Linked DNA regions of Homo sapiens: region 1 is linked to region 2. The links come from fine-mapping of genetic effects on gene expression. A gene starts in region 2. The other region holds a variant in brackets. All regions are shown on one strand. Distances are from middle to middle.

What was found. PIP is the estimated chance that this variant, and not a neighbour inherited with it, causes the effect.
Region 1: its variant is fine-mapped to the expression of PLEKHO2 in tibial artery (GTEx, PIP 0.98). The same link has a PIP of 0.9 or more in whole blood.

The regions. Positions count from the first base shown.
Region 1 is chr15:64,872,181-64,874,680 of GRCh38, forward strand. No RefSeq gene overlaps it. Among named protein-coding and RNA genes, the nearest start is that of PLEKHO2, 32 kb to the left of the region's middle. RefSeq lists enhancers at 816-905, 926-975. The variant C/T (reference allele first, on the strand shown) is at 1,057.
Region 2 is chr15:64,840,704-64,843,707 of GRCh38, forward strand. It overlaps PLEKHO2 (pleckstrin homology domain containing O2), which reads left to right and starts at 1,212. Exons shown (of 6, transcript NM_025201.5): 1 at 1,212-1,325. The coding sequence starts at 1,314. It also overlaps a transcript of LOC124903508 not described here. RefSeq lists silencers at 735-1,054, 1,065-1,504 and enhancers at 1,312-1,835, 1,868-2,419.

The DNA of each region.
Region 1 (2,500 bases), 31 kb after region 2:
CCCAGGACAGGGGGAGGGGCAACCAGATTGCCCCTTCCTCTACCCCTGCCTAGGCCCTGGCGGCATCCTGTCTCGGGAGTCACTGTGTTTTGTTCCCTTCTCCCTGTCTTGTCTTCCTGCCTCCCCACCCCTACCCTCATGTCCCAGACAAAAGGGGTGTCAGAAAAGACAAACTCACTCCACAGAGGTTTCTGTGACCAAGGAGGCTCTGTGATGGAACATGGATGGTGGAGAGGTGATGATGGAAATTCCTCCCTGTTGACATAATTTAACAAAATTCTTAGAGGAAACAGCAGGATGTAAGTAGAGAAAACATGACTTCAGGTTTGGAGGCAGACACACCTGGATTCAAACCCCAGGGGTAGCCAGGTGCAGTGGCTCACACCTATAATCCCAGCACTTTGGGAGGCTGAGGTGGGTGGATCACCTGAGGTCAGGAGTTCGAGACCAGCCTGGCCAACACGGGAAAACTCCGTCTCTACTAAAAATACAAAATTAGCCAGGAGTGGTGGCAGGCGCCTGTAGTCTCAGCTACTCAGGAGGCAACAGAGTGAGACTATGTCTCAAAAAAAAAAAAAAAAAAAAGAAAAGAAAATGCTTAATAAACTCCAGCAGCCTGGCCTCACAGAGCACCTACTGTTTGCCAGGCCTGTTAACCTCTCACAGTCACCACAGTGGCCTCACAAGGAAGATGTAATTTCACTCCATTTTACAGGTTAAGAAACTGAGGCTTAAGCAACTTAGGTAGGGGACCAAAGTTAGTGTCAGGACCTGGGATTTGACCCTCCTGGGGTTTTGGCCTGGGGCCACAACTGACTGCTTTCTGCTATTTGTCTGGAGGGTCTGTGATTTCAGATGGAGGCTCACCCCAGAGTCCTTGGGGCACCCCCACCTTTCCTGGCACTGGGAGGATACCCCAAGGCCTGGGCAGGTTCTCCACCAGCTGGCTATGGCCCAAAGGAGAGGCTTCGGAGGACTTTCCCTTATAAGGACAACAGCTCAGCTGTGATGAAACTTCTCAGCCTCCTAGCTGGGGAGGCGGGAGAGGGGAAATGA[C/T]GGTGGCTCCAAGGGTTACAGCTGAGTTTGAGCCTCCTCAGGAACTTGCCCACAAGCCTCCACTCTCTGTTGTCATAATTTTATGGGAGGAGGGGCCAGGCAGGGCTTGGGACCAGAGGGGGTGGCCCACAGAAGGGAAGATGCCTACATTGAGGCCTAGGGAGGAGACAGGACCCTTCAACATCCAGCAGGCAGCTTGCAGATCTGGACTCCAAGCCGTAGGCCTATCTGGCTTCAAACTCACACTCACCCTGGGGAGGATTATCAGAGGGTCCAGAAGGCTATTAGGCCAGCCATCCCTTTCTCTCTTTTGTTTTTTGTTTTTTTTTGAGATGGAGTCTCGCTCTGTCACCCAGGCTGGAGTGCAGTGGCACAATCTCGGCTCACTGCAAGCTCCGCCTCCCGAGTTCATGCCATTCTTCTGCCTCAGCCTCCCGAGTAGCTGGGACTACGGGCGCCCGCCCCAGGATGGTCTAGATCTCCTGACCTCGTGATCTGCCTGCCTTGGTCTCCCAAAGTGCTGGGATTACAGGTGTGAGCCACCACGCCTGGCCTCCCTTTTTATTTATTTATTTATTTATTTGAGACCCGGTCTTGCTCTGTGGCCCAGGCTGGAGCCAGGCTGGAGTGCAGTGGCACGATCTTGGCTCACTGCAACCTCCTCCTCCTCCTGGGTTCAAGCAATTCTCCTGCCTCAGCCTCCCGAGTAGCTGGGACTACAGGCACCCACCACCACGACCAGCTAATTTTGTATTTTTAGTAGAGACGGGGTTTCACCGTGTTGGCCACGTTGGTTTCGAATTCCGGACCTCAGGTGATCCACCTGCCTCGGCCTCCCAGAGTGCTGGGATTATAGGCGTCAGCCACCGTGCCCGGCCCCTTTCTCCCTTTGGACCTCTAAAGTGGAGTCTTAAAGAGCAGGGTGTGTGGGGCTGGTCTGCTTTTGGCCTTCCTCCCCATGAAGCCTGTGTCCCTAGGGGACTGCCCTCCCCAACACAATTCGTCAGCCCACCGTCCAGTCTGAGAAACTATTCCATCCATGGAATCACAGGATATTGGGGCTGATAAGGATCTTTGAGACGTCTAGTCTCACCTGCTGGTTTTAGAGAGGAGGAAATAACAGCTCAGAGCGGCCAGGGGAGGTGGTGGCTCATATGTGTAATTCCAGCACTTTGGGAGGCTGAGGTGGGCAGATGTCTTGAGGCCAATCTTCAAGGCTTGAGACCAGCCTGAGCAACATGGCAAAATCCTGTCTCTACAAAAAAAAATTAGCAGGGCATGGTGATGCAGGCCGAAGTGGGAGGATCGCTTAAACCTGGGAGGCGGAGGTTGCAGTCAGCTGAGATCGTGCCACTGCCATCTCAAAAAAAAAAAACAAAAGCTCAGAGGGGACCTGGTATTGCCCATTTGTTTTGTTAAAATGTGTGTGTGTGTGTGTGTGTGT
Region 2 (3,004 bases):
TTTCTTCATTCCTTTAGCTAAAGGATCCCAGGCCTAGGCATGAGGGAGAAGTGTACCTGCATCTCCTTCCCCCTTGGCCTGGGAGCCCCAGGCTGCCCTTTTCCGTACAGGGCTGGAAGTAGCCTGGGAGCCTGAGGGCTGGCAGAAGGCCGTGAAAGGGGAGCTTGGTCGCTGGCACAGCCGCTGCTATGGCAGCCAGAGCCGAAGAAGGTCACCATTGATCTCACATGCACTTAATTTTCCCTTCCTTGGCATGGGACGGGGTTGACCAGGAGAGCTAAGGGGGAGTATGCGTGTGTGTGTGAGAGGGGAGCGGTGCTGCAGGCTGCGATGCAGCCAGTTACTTTCTCTCTCTGGGCCTCAGTTTCTCCAATGTAAAATGAGGGCGCATGGTATAACTAAAATCATTACTCTCTGCTGGTCCCCACACTCCCACTCTCCAGTAAGGCTGTCAGGGCTGCAAGCTCACCGCGGGATCGGGGGGATGGTCGACCCTCAGATACGGGAGGGATTGAGCGATGCCCAAGGAGAGCAGGAGAACACTGCGCTTGGAGACCCCTGAGAGCCAGGGGCGGGCCGCCCCCTAAAGGGACCCCGGAGTCCCGACTCTCAGCTCCAGCTCTTCCTGTGACACCACCCTCCGGACAGAGACCCAAGCTCCAGGCCCGGCCCCGCCCAGAGGTTCCAGGGAGAAGACCAGGCCACCGCCCACTGCCCGGCGTCGGGGAGGAAAGAGGAGGAGCCTCTGTGTGCCCACATCTCTGGCCGCCCAGGGCAGCTCGGCTCGGTCTCGCAACCCCAGCCCACTGGTTCGGGAGACCTCAAAGGCTCCACCGCCAGCGCCCCCAGCGCTCACTGTGTGCGCCCCACCCCAGCCCTGCCTGCGCGCCGCTCCCGCCACCCTCGCCTCAGTCTCTGGGCCGGAAGCCCCCTCTCCTCCCCCGCCGCAGCCCCCTCCTAGTCCCTCTCCCTCCGCCGATGCGGGAAACCTTCTCCGCCCCGTCCCGCCCTCTTCCTCCAGTTGCATCTCCGCCCGGCTCCTCCGTCCAGTCTCCAACCCAGGCCCCGCCCCTCCCCACCCATTTCCCGCCCTGGGCCGGGCCCCCGGCCCCACCGCCCCCTCCCCGGCCCCGCCCCGGCCCCCGGAAGCCTCACCCCGCCCCCGGCCCCGCCCCCCCGAAGTTTCTTGGGCCCCCGGCAGCCGGCGGGACAGAACGCGGAGAGTCGCCGCCTGGCCGGGCGTAGACGCGGTGGCAGAGCCCGCGCGGCGCTGGAAGCGAGTGGCGGAGCGGCGGGACCTCGGCGGACTCGCCATGGAGGAGGAGGTGAGGGCGGGGCCCGGCGGGGCGTTGGGCTGGGGTCCTCGAGCCCCTCACGGGGATTGCGGTCCTGGGCTCAGGCCCTCGTTCCTGCCCGCCCCACTCCCGCCAGTCTCACCTCAGGAAGAGCCTGGGCAAATGGGGCAGGGGCGAGGGGCTGGATCCATATCGGGGACTTCGCAGACCGCGTCCTCCTTCATTCTCGCTGACTTTCTCACCAGTTGTGGGGCGTCGTGGTTGTTACCGTTCCCATTGGATTGACCAGGAGACTGAGACTCCAGCGAGATTGATGACTTGCTGAAAGTGGCCTGGGTGACTGGGCTCGAACCCCGATTACCGTGGTCGGATCCTGACTCTCTCTCTCTCTCTGTGTGTGTGTGTGTGTGTGTGTGTGTGTGTGTCGGATCCTGACTGTGTGTGTGTGTGTATGTGTGTGTTGGGGGGTTCCTGTCTCAAGGATCGGATCCTGACTCTGTGTGTGTGTGTATGTGTGTGTTGGGGGGTTCCTGTCTCAAGGATGTGACCATGCTTTGGTGGCAGGAGGATTGGAGAAGTTGCTTTTTTCTCCCTTGTATAAGTCTCTGTATCTTTTCCCCCACTCTCTCCCCGCTCCACATCCATCTGAGCAGCTAGCTGTAGGGAAGGAATCGGGAGTCCGGCCCACCTAGGGTCTGATCTTAGTCCCTGCCTTCCCCACCCGAGGGCTGGACCAACTGTGTCCCTGGAGCCTCCTTCTAACCACTCAAAACACTCTTGGCCTGGGATTGGGTCTTGCCCCTGCCCCTGCCCTTTACTTGCAAACTCAGTTCTGCCAGCAGCCGCTTTATCCGAGGGTCCAGCACGCAGCAAGCACTTAATATATGCCTGTGGAATGATTAAGTTAAAATGAGGGGCCTGTTGGGTCTAGAGGAAGGTGAATTTGTTTCTTATCCCCTGAGGGGGTCCCAGCTTCAGCCCCTCTCAGCCCAAGGGAAGGGGCATGTCTTTGCCTCCTTGGATGGGGAGGAAAGATGAAGTTCTCTGCCTTGGGGGAACCCTGGCCAGCTGGGAAGCCCTGAGTGGACCGGACTGCCTGTGTCCCTTCAGTGCCCACCTCCCACTTTTCCAGGGCCATGGATAGGAGCAGCTAGTGGTCCGTCAGGGCTCCCTCTAGGCCAGGCCCTGCCTTTCTGTGGGATGGTAGATAAGTCACTTCCCCTCTCAGCCTTCATTTCCTCTTCTACAAAATATAGTGCCTGTCCTCCTCATACTCCTGGCCTGACAGTGGCCGGTTCTCTCAGTGGGTGAAGGTAGGGGGCAAAGTCAGGCCTCTGTGATTTGCTGCGGTTTCTTTCTGGCTGTTAGGTGGGGCTGCCATCTGCCTGCCCCAGGCCCCTGCTGCAAGGGCTGGGCTCTCTGGCCAGGGCCCCTCCCCTGCTCCCAGAGGATGTGGGTCAGGATTACTCCATCTCCTGATCTGCGCTGGCCCCTGATTAAGGGAAGTTCTCCGGACACCTCCTGGGCCCGGCTCAGCTCTGTACACCCTTGGTCCTGAATCTCTCACATTGTCACTTTCTTTTCTTTTTTTTTTTTTTTGAGACGGAGTTTCGCTCTTGTTGCCCAGGCTGGAGTGCAGTGGCGAGATATTGGCTCACCGCAACCGCCACCTCCTGGGTTCAAGCAATTCTCCTGCCTCAGCCTCCTGA